Linked DNA regions of Homo sapiens: region 2 is linked to region 1. The links come from fine-mapping of genetic effects on gene expression. A gene starts in region 1. The other region holds a variant in brackets. All regions are shown on one strand. Distances are from middle to middle.

Region 1 (5,381 bases):
TAATTTACAAACATTTGCATTGAAATGACAATCTCAAGGCTCAAAGACTTCAACCTCAAGCACCATGTAGTAGCCCAGTGAATTTTTTTTTTTTTTAAGCAGCGGGGGTGGGCTTTGGGGAGACGGGGGAATGAGTAAGAAACTTCTTGGGTCTGTTATCAGAGGCATTCGAACCAGAGCAACTCCGTCCTGAATGAGGGCTAGGAAAATGAGGCTGGAACTTGGGAGGCGGCATTCTGGACTGGTAGCTATTCTTGGCCTCTAGATGTTTCTGGTTAAGGGAACAGATTAATAACACTTAAAAATTATTGATGCCACAAAAGAAATAGCACTTGAAAATTTCCTCAAGGCAATTTTACTTCTATAGAAGGGTGACTTACAGATGGAGCAATGGCGAGAGCACAGCTGAACCAAGGGAGAGGAAGGGGTTCTTATTTCTGAGACAGGTAGCCTCTACTGCTGTCATTCCCCTATTGGCTAGGGTTGGACCACAGTGTAAGCTAATTCCGAATGGCTATTTTAAAGAGCAGTGGGTACAAGTCTGAGAAGCAGGAATGACTGCTACAGAACCGGTGACTCACGATGATTGAAGTCAGAGCAGGTAACCAGCGTTGACTCAGGATGGAGTAGGTGACCAGGGCAACACATGTGACCTACTGATTAGAACTGGTGGAAAAGCTTGTTTACTGAAACTAGGGGCAAGGAGATGAGAACGAGGAAGTTAAACTTTAAAATGGACAAAACGGGAGCCGAACGTGTACTGATAGATTGGCTCTTTGGATGGGATGTCAGAACTCATTGTACTTAACAATTGACAGGCTAAAATCTTGGAAGAGGTATTACATCCTTCAATGCTTACTAAAGAGACCCAGATGTGGGAGTGTCATGTTATCCTGATACCTTGAACAGAAGGATTCGTAATTTCGCTTCGAAGATAATACTGATTCTTGTAAAATGTAGTAATTAAGAATTATTACAAATCCTTGTAGCAGAGCATGTCTCTCATCAAGATGTTTTGTTTTTTGATGCAGTCTTGCTCTGTTGTCCAGATTGGAGTACAATGGTGCAGTCTCAGCTCATTGCAACCTCTACCTCCCGGGTTCAAGCAATTCTCCTGCCTTAGCCTCCCAAGTAGCTGGGCGCACAGGCACGTGCCACCACCCCTGGCTAATTTTTGTATTTTTTAGTACAGACTGTTTGACCATGTTGTGTAGGCTAGTCTCAAACGCATGACCTCAAGTGATCCCCCCCACCTCAGCCTCACAAAGTGCTGGGATTACAGGCGTGAATCACCATGCCCGGCCCCTCATGATCTTTTTTATTCTCTATAAACAAGCATTGTACCTAGAGTGGATGCATTCCCCTTTCTTTTGGGAATGCCCTACTCTATGGCTAACAGTACTTAGGCTACTTCCTTAATAAACATACTTTTGCTTTGCACTGTGGACTTGCCCCTGAATTCTTTTGTGCACGAGATCCAAGAAGCCTCTCTTGGGGGTCTGGATCAGGACCCCTTGCCTGTAACATTGTTACCTCCCTTTTCGACCAAAGCAGCCTCATTTTTTTTATTGCATTGTGGTGTGGAGCCCCAAAACTAGTTGGCATCTCTGGACCCCTAAAGATCTAGGTAACACTTGGTGAATTTTTAAAATCTCCCTTTTCATGGGTTTTTAGAAATTCAAAGTACTCTCCAAGATTTTCCCAAATCCCAGGTGCTTCTACCATTATTGTTACATGAAAGGGTTCCTGATGCAGTCCCGAGAGAGATGGTTCTTGGATCTCCTGCAAGAAAGAAAGAAAGCACAAGTCTGTAAAGTGAAAGCAAGGTGATTAAGAAAATCAAGGAATAAAGAATGGCTACTCAATAGACAGAGCAGCCCTGAGGGCTGCTGGTTGCCTTTTTTTATGGCTATTTCTTGACATGCTAAACAAGGGGTGGATTATTCATACCTCCCCTCTTTAGACCATATAGGGTAACTTCCAGATGTTGCCATGGCATTTGTAAGCTGTCATGGCAGTGGTGGGAGTGTAGCAGTGAGGACGGTCAGAGGCCACTTTAAGCACCATCTTGGTTTTGGTGGGTTTTGGCCGGCTTCTTTACTGCAACCTGTTTTATCAGCAAACAGGTCGGCACAAGATACAGCTATCTCATCCTGTGACTAAGTGTCTTAAGCGTCTGGGAATGCAGCCCAATAGTTTCAGCCTCATTTTATCCAGCTCCTACCCAAGATGGAGTTGCTCTGGTTCAAATCCCTCTGACACCATTATGACATCTTCTCTAATTTTCATGCTTGTGTGAAATTATTTGGGCTGAAGTGGTCAGACAGCTTGGGCTACCTTGTCACCATATTGTGCTAGGTGGAGGCTACTGCCTCTAGAAGACTGTCTATTGTGCCTTGAATACACAGCATTGACTTTGCAGGGTCATCTTGCTGGATAACATAGCACCACCCAAACAGGAGAATTGAGGCTGAGACTGGATCAGGCCCAGTGGAACATAGCGAAATGAGAATAAGCTTTCGTGTTAGAATCCTGCCTATGTGATCTCCAGCAACTTAACATCTCTGAGCCACTTCATTTATCTGGAGAATGGGGCTAAATCTTCCTGAGTTTTTGAGGCTTACAGCGAATAATGTACGGCACCTGACATGCAGTAAACAAGAAATCAAAGGTAAATACCATTATTCAGTCTTCAGCACAGAATTTGTTCATTTTCTTACCATACCGCCCTTCCTCCCCCACTTTATAAAGAACAGAGACAGATCTCATTTTTTCAGATCTAACAGGTACCCCCATCCCCATGACTGGCTTTCAATAGATTGATCATAGTGTGCAGAGGTCAGCAAACTTTGGCCCACCTGTTTAGTAAATAAAGGTGAGTTGGAACACAGCCTTGTCCACGCATCAGTTGAATAGTTGGCAATGGGAATCTCATGATCTGCACCTAAAAATATTTGGCCCTTTACAGAAATACTTGGCCATCCCCTGGCTTATAGCCGGTTGTGTTTTGTTTCCCTGTGTCTCTTTCCCACCCCAGCTGGGATTCAGGCTAGCCTGTTTGTCTAATCAGATCTGAGGAAAGTGCATTCAGTTGATGAAATCGGCTAACAAGGGTTCATTGCTACGGGCTCATTGTGTTTGGAGATGGGGAATGTGCGTGGGTTGGTCAGAGCCTTAACCCACAGCCCTGCTCCCAGGAAGCTTTCTGACCACTTCTGTGGATAAACAAGGCACGCATAGCTGGGCACAGTAGCTCACACAACACCTGCACTTTGGGAGGCCGAGGCAAGAGGATGGCTTCAGCTCAGGAGTTTGATACCATCCTGGGAAACAAGGCAAAACCCTGTCTCCACTAAAAACACAAAAATTAATGGGGTGTGGCAATATGTGCCTGTAATCCCAACTACTTGGGAGGCTGAGGGAGGATGGCTTGAGCCCAGGAGGTAGGGGCTGGAGTGTACTATGATTGTGCCGTTGCACTGCAGCCTGTGTAACAGAGCAAGAACCTGTCTCAAAAATACAAACAAAATATAAAAAAGCCATGTGAGCCACAGGCCAGAACTTTAACCCAAACTTGTATACGGATTAGCTTCAACCTTTTAATCTATCTGGGCCTCAGTTCCCCCATCCATTAAATGGCAATAATTTTAAGTTTTACGGTACATGTGCATAACATGCAGGTTTGTTACATAAATACACATGTGCCATGTTGCTGTGCTGTACCCATTAACTTGCTTAACATTAGGTGTATCTCCTAATGTTATGCCTCCCCCTCCCTCCACCCCACAACAGGCCCCAGTGTGTGATGTTCCCCTTCCTGTGTCCATGTGTTCTCATTGTTCAACTCCCACCTATAAGTGAGAATATGCTGTGTTTGGTTTTTTGTCCTTGCCATAGTTTGCTGAGAATGATTGTTTCCAGCTTCATCCACATCCCTACAAAGGACATGAACTCATCATTTTTTATGGCTGCATAGTATTCCATGGTGTATATGTGCCACGTTTTCTTAATCCAGTCTATCATTGTTGGACGTTTGGGTTAGTTCCAAGTCTTTGCTATTGTGAATAGTGCTGCGATAAATATCTGTGCATGTGTCTTTATGGCAGCATGTTTTATAGTTCTTTGGGTATATACCCAGTAATTGGGATAGCTGGGTCAAATGGTATCTTTAGTTCTAGATCCCTGAGGAATCGCCACACTGACTTCCACAATGGTTGAACTACTTTACAGTCCCACCAACAGTGTAAGTGTTCCTATTTCTCCATATCCTCCCCAGCACCTGTTGTTTCCTGACTTTTTAATGATTGCCATTCTAACTGGTGAGATGGTATCTCATTGTGGTTTTGATTTGCATTTGATGGCCAGTGATGAGCATTTTTTCATGTCTGTTGGCTGCATAAATGTCTCCTGAGAAGTGTCTGTTCATATCCTTTGCCCACTTTTTGATGGGGACTTTTTTTTCTTGTAAATTTTGAGTTCTCTGTAGATTCTGGATATTAGCCCTTTGTCAGATGGGTAGCTGGCAAAAATTTTCTCCCATTCTGTAGGTTGCCTGTTCACTCTGATGGTAGTTTGTTTTGCTGTGCAGAAGCTCTTTACTTTAATTAGATCCCATTTGTCAATTTTGGTTTGGTTGCCATTGCTTTTGGTGTTTAAGACATGAAGTCCTTGCCCATGTCTATGTCCTGAATGGTAATGCCTAGGTTTTCTTCTAGGGTTTTTATGGTTTTAGGTCTAAAGTTGAAGTCTTTAATCCATCTTGAATTTTTGTATGAGGTGTAAGGAAGGGATCCAGTTTCAGCTTTCTACATATGGCTAGCCAGTTTTCCCAGCACCATTTATTAAATGGGGAATCCTTTCCCCATTGTTTTTCTCAGGTTTGTCCAAGATCAGATAGAAATAAAGCCACATATCTACAACTGAGGGCTCTGTTCTGTTCCATTTATCTATATCTGTTTTGGTACCAGTACCATGCTGTTTTGGTTACTGTAGCCTTGTAGTATAGTTTCAAGTCAGGTAGTGTGATGCCTACAGCTTTGTTTTTTGCCTTAGGATTGATTTGGCAATGTGGGCTCTTCTTTGGTTCCATATGAACTTTAAGGTTTTTTCCAATTTAGTGAAGAAAGTCATTGGTAGCTTGATGGGGATGGCATTGAATCTGTAAATTACCCTGGGCGGTATGGCCATTTTCATGATACTGATTCTTCCTACCCATGAGCATGGAATGTTCTTCCATTTGTTTGTATCCTTCTATTTCATTGAGCAGTGGTTTATAGTTCTCCTTGAAGAGGTCTTTCACATCCCTTGTAAGTTGGATTTCTAGGTGTATTATTCTCTTTGAAGCAGTTGTGAATGGGAGTTCACTCATAATTTGGCTGTCT
Region 2 (5,381 bases), 41 kb before region 1:
TGGGAGGCCAAGGCAGGTGGATCACTTGAGGTCAGGAGTTCGAGACCAGACTGGCCAACGAGGTGAAGCCCCATCTCTACTAAAAATTAAAAAATTAGCCAGGCGTGGTGGCGCACGCCTGTAGTCCCAGCTTCTCGGGAGGCTGAGGCAGGAGAATCGCTTGAACCCACGAGGCAGAGGTTGTAGTGAGCCCAGATCGTGCCATTGCACTCCAGCCTGGGCAACAGAGAGAGATTCTGGGAAAAAAAAAGAAAGGAGAGAGAGAGAGAGAGAAGGAAGGGAGGGAGGGAGGGAAAGAGAAGAAAAAGAAAGAAAGGAAAGAAAGAAGAAAGAAAGGAAGGAAGGAAAGGAAAAAGAAAAAGAGAAGAAAAAGAAGGAAAGAGAAAAGGAAAAAAGAAAAAAGAGAAAGAAAAAGAAAGAAAGAAAGAAAAAGAAAGAAAGAATGAAAAAGAAAGAAAAAGGAAGGAAAGAAAGAAAAGGAAGGGAGAAGTGTTAAAGGGATGGAGTTGGGCCACCTGGGTTCCATTGCTAGCTCTGCCACTCAATGATTCTGCGGCCTTGGGTAGGTCATGTCCTGTTTCTGAGACTCAGTTTCTTTATCTATAAAATGGGGACAATATAGTACCTTTCCCTTAAGGTTAACATGAGCCTTCTTGACACCTTAGCACTGATACATGAGCAAATCTTGGCAGAATATAACCAAATGCTTCTGCACTGTCCATTGTGTCTGTGCAGAGTATTTGCATAATAGATAATCATGACATTGATCATCTTCAAACATCACGTGTTTGTTCCTCCACCCTCATCCCCCAGCACAGAGCCCAGCCGTGCATCCATGAGGGGCCCATGGTCCCCCTTAAAATGTGCTTAGCCTCCCAGACTGGGTTCTTAAAGCTAGATTTGGGCTGGGTGCAGTGACTTATGCCTGTAATTTCAGCACTTTGGGAGGCAGAGGTGGGGGGATATCACCTGAGGTCAGGAGTTCGAGACCAACTAGCCAACATGGTGAACCCCATCTCTACTAAAAATACAAAAATTAGTCGAGTGTGGTGGCACATGCCTGTAGTCCCAGAAACTCGGGAGGCTGAGGCAGGAGAATCACTGATCCCAGGAGGTGGAGGTTGCAGTGAGCCGAGATTGCACCACTGCACTTCAGCCCAGGCAACAGAGTGAGTGAAGCTTAGTCTCAAAAACAAACAAACAAACAAAAAAAAACTACATTTGATAGCACAGCAGCAGTCAAATTTTTTTATAATGCAGCTTCAAAGGAACAAAACAAACTTTCCCTCTTGTCTATAAAGGAGCAGGCAGCTGAGACGTCAGCTACGTGGCCTGAGACTATTGTGATTACTTCCCATGTATGAACTCACTGAGCGCTAAAAACAACCCCACCAAGGTAAGTATTTTGATTATTCCCATTTTTCAGATGAGAAAACTGAGACCTCAGACACTGAGGAACTTGCTCAAGGTCACGTAGCTTGTGAGTGTCAGAGTTGGGATTCAAACCCAAGCATTGTGGTCCCAGCACCAATTACCCCTCCACTGTACCAAGCCTCTAGCCTTCTGTGGCAGGGGGAGTTGGAATGACATATGTACTCCCTTACCCAAAAAGGATAAAGCATGTTCACAAATAGGACCCCAGGCTTTCTTCTTTTAGATGAAGAAGCAGGTCTGCTCCTCTTGGAATCAGACACTGGAATGTAAATTATTTTTGGCCGGGAGCAGTGGCTCACGCCTATAATCCCAGCACTTTGGGAGGTCAAGGTGGGCAGATCACTTGAGGTCTGGAGTTCGAGACCAGCCTGGCCAACATGGTGAAACCTCATCGCCACTAAAAATACAAAAATCAGCCAGGCATGGTGGTGTGCGCCTATAATCCCAGCTACTCGGGGGGCTGAAGCAGGAGAATTGCCGTTGCACTCCAGCCTAGGCAACAGAGTGAGACTCTGTCTCCTCAAAAAAAAAAAAAAGTAAGTAAATTATTTTCATCCTCAAATTATGTCTCCACTGACAAATGGAACCAAGTTTATTTATTTCATTATTCAATTTAGTTAAGTATTTTTTTTTCTCTCCAAGGAATTCTAGGAATAAAGTCACACATTACCCGAAAGATCTCCAGCAGAGGCGTTTCTGGGCCAACGTTACTCACCTACGGAGAGTCTGCAGCTCCTAGCTTGGATGAAAGGAAAGTTTCATTAGCTTTATTTACTTCTTCCGACGTAATTGGTCAGCAGAGTATAAATGCTGATGTCATGTCTAATTAGCGGTGGCCTCTGCCCTTCTGGTCACAGCACCGCGTCTGGCTTGTTTGTGTGGATGGAGCAGTTTCACGGGGAGCGTCTTTATGAACTAGCTCTCCCATGGAGCTGCTCTAATTATCATTTAAGAAAACAAGCGTTTTGATGTTGTGTAGACAGTTCAGCAACATCTCCCCAGCAGGGCTGATAATTTTAACACCCTTTCAGTACATGATGGGCTTTTTCCACAGGTGATCACATCAGATCCTGGGGAACCAGAAATTGGGAACTCATGTCTGCTCCTCTTTGTCGTGGACACCTTGCTGATCTTGGCTCCAGTCGGATCCGTCAGG[T/C]GCTCTAAAGCTAATTGTATTGGCATGGATTTTGCCAGGCATCCAAAATTCAGATTAAACAACCAATGCAATCATCATGCCCCTGGGTACCATTTATTGTGATGAAATCAGACCTAACATAAAGGAAACAGTTCAATACCTAAAAGATTTAGCGTGGATACAAATATTCATTGATACTAATAAATTTTACAGTATGCTTTGTTTAAAAACAGAAAGGAGTAGTTAATTACAGACTGAGAATGTCAATTTGACAACAACACTTTCTTCTTGGTTTACATCATTCAGTTCCAGAAAATCAGTAAGATAAAAGCCATGCGCCACTGGGGGAGAAAGGAGGTGACCTCCAGGTTCTCTTTCTCTCTCACACAGACACTTCTCAACCCCAGTGACCTCTGCTTTTCCATCCAAACACAGGACCAATCGCCAGACTCCAGTTTGCTTCCAGGACTTTATATGGCACCCTGAGGACAGCTCATTCCACCATGTCCCCCACCCATATCATCCTTCCTCTCCATGCAGACTCTAGCTCAATCTGTCAATCCAGTCTTCTGGTTTTTGGGTTTTTTTTCTCTCTCTCTTTTTTTTTTTTTAAGGCAGAGCCTCACTCTGTCGCCCAGGCTGGAGTGCAGTGCAGTGCTGCCGTCTCAGCTCACTGCAACCTCTGCCTCCCAGCTCAAGTGATTCTCGTGCTTCAGCCTCCCGAGTAGCTGGAACTACAGGTGTGTGCCACCACACCCAGCTAATTTTTCTTTTTTCTTTTTTTTTTTTTTTGTATTTTCAGTAGAGATGGGGTTTCATGTGTTGGTCAGGCTGGTCTCGAACTCCTGGCCTCAAGTGATTCACCCACCTCTGCCTCCCAGAGTGCTGGGATTACAGGTGTGCACTGCCACGCTGGGCCCAGACTTGTGTTCTTGTGCACACACACAGCACGCTTCCTTTCCCCCTTCCTGCCCCTCCTTCTCTCAATTTTCCACTGAAGCCCCCAGAGCTCTTGTTTCTGTGAAGCAAATCCCCCTGCATTCTCAGCCTCTCCTCTGAGTCCTGAGCCCCTCTTACTCCTCGTTTTACTTTGTCTGCAACTCCCTCTGAGTAGAAGCTGTTCCCTCCTCCATGTGCCACTTTCCACGATGCCCATAAACCAGCTAGGGGTCTTCCAGTTCCCCAGTGTGCCCTCCACTGCCTTTCACTCATTTCCTTTTTTCTTTTTAGAGACAGGGTCTTGCTCTGTGGCCCAGGCTGGAGTGCTGTGCTCTGATCATAGCTCACCACAGCCTTGACTTCCGGGCTCAAGTGATCCATCCTCCTGCCTCAGTCTCCTAAGTAGTTGTGATTACGGGCGTGCACCACCACACCTGGCTAATTTTTTTAAAAAAATGTAGAGATGGGGTAGGGAGCTATGTTGCCCAGGCTGGTCTTGAACTCTTGGGCTCAAGCTATCCTCCTGCCTCAGCCTTCCAAAGTGCTGGGATTTCAGGTGTGACCCACTGTGCCCAGACTTTACACTCATTTCTACATTAATTCAGCAAATTATCGAGTACCTACTCTGTGCCAGGGATATATCTGATGGCTCCTTCTCATGGAAATCACCCAGTGATTTCCTGGTGACTCATCTCTCTTTTATAGAAGGTTCTTGGATTTGATTAACAGTCTTTCTGACCACCGAAATGTAACCTCCATCCAGGGTGACTTACTGTCCATGGGAACCACCCACCTATGATGGACACCTGTGCAGCATCCATTATGCCTTTTTTTTTTTTTTTTTTTTTTTTTGAGACAGAGTCTTGCTCTGTCACCCAGGCTGGAGTGCAGTGGTGCAACTTTGGCTCACTGCAACCCCTGCCTGCCAGGTTGAAGTGATTCTCCTGCCTCAGCCTTCCGGGTAGCTGGGATTACTACCACGCCCAGCTAGTTTTGTATTTTTAGTAGAGAGGGGGTTTCATCATGTTGGTCAGGCTGGTTTTGAACTCCTGACATCAAGTGATCTGCTTGCCTCCCAAAGTGCTGGGATTACAGATATGAGCCACCATGCCTGGCCCATTATGCCTTCTCACTGTACTTTGGAGGTCCTACTATCCCCGACATTAGTTTCTGTTGTTTAGATGGCACTGGCGTTATCCTGGGCTTTGCCATGGTGGAAGCAGAAGTACCTGTGAGGTATCAGGTGCCACAGTTCTGGCCACATGCCAGGGGTGTCACAGAGGGCCACAGAACCCAAGTCAAACCAAGGATGTGTATCCCAGGCTTCTCGTTGGATGTATTAGCAGAAGATCTCTTTCCACTGGAGTTCGCTGGAAGGGGTGGTGCATGTTTGGAACTGGTGGGGGATCCCACCTAGAAGAGAGCTTACCAAGGAATGTAGCCATCATAGAAGAAACTAGGGAAGAGAAACAGGGAGAAGAGAGAATAAGAAGAAAGAAGCAAGGGACCAGAATGAACCCCTGGGTCTAGCCATACCTGAAGCTAGTCAGTGCCTGGCTGCCAATAACTTTCTTTCTTTGCTTCAGTCAGTTTTCTGTTGTTTGCAAACCAAAAGAGGCCTGATTGCTACAACATTCCACAATGTTGATCTCAAGTCCCATTTCTTGTCCATTCTACCTCTGCAACTGACTCCCATAAGCCAGAGCTAGAGGCTGGGGAGGGGGTTTTAGGCTTGACAAGGGAGTATGTTTTTTGTTTGTTTTTTTTTTTTGAGACAGAGTCTTACTCTGTCGCCCAGACTGGAGTGCAGTGGTACAATCTCGTCTGACTACAGCATCCGCCTCCCAGGTTCAAGTGATTCTCGTGTCTCAGC

Which allele goes with the higher level. Alleles are on the strand shown, and positions count from the first base shown. SD is a standard deviation of normalised expression in the study named.
As copies of C replace T in region 2, the expression in neutrophils of the gene that starts at base 2,267 in region 1 goes down (large effect, 0.80 SD a copy in BLUEPRINT).

The links. PIP is the estimated chance that this variant, and not a neighbour inherited with it, causes the effect.
Region 2: its variant is fine-mapped to the expression of SNX29-AS3 in neutrophils (BLUEPRINT, PIP 0.95).

The regions. Positions count from the first base shown.
Region 1 is chr16:12,608,028-12,613,408 of GRCh38, reverse strand. It overlaps SNX29-AS3 (SNX29 antisense RNA 3), which reads left to right and starts at 2,267. Exons shown (of 4, transcript XR_007064988.1): 1 at 2,267-2,671. RefSeq lists an enhancer at 1-263 and a cis regulatory region at 424-803.
Region 2 is chr16:12,649,204-12,654,584 of GRCh38, reverse strand. LOC105371088 (a long non-coding RNA gene) reads left to right here and starts at 1,212. Exons shown (of 2, transcript XR_933085.3): 1 at 1,212-1,396; 2 at 2,077-2,801. The variant T/C (reference allele first, on the strand shown) is at 2,591.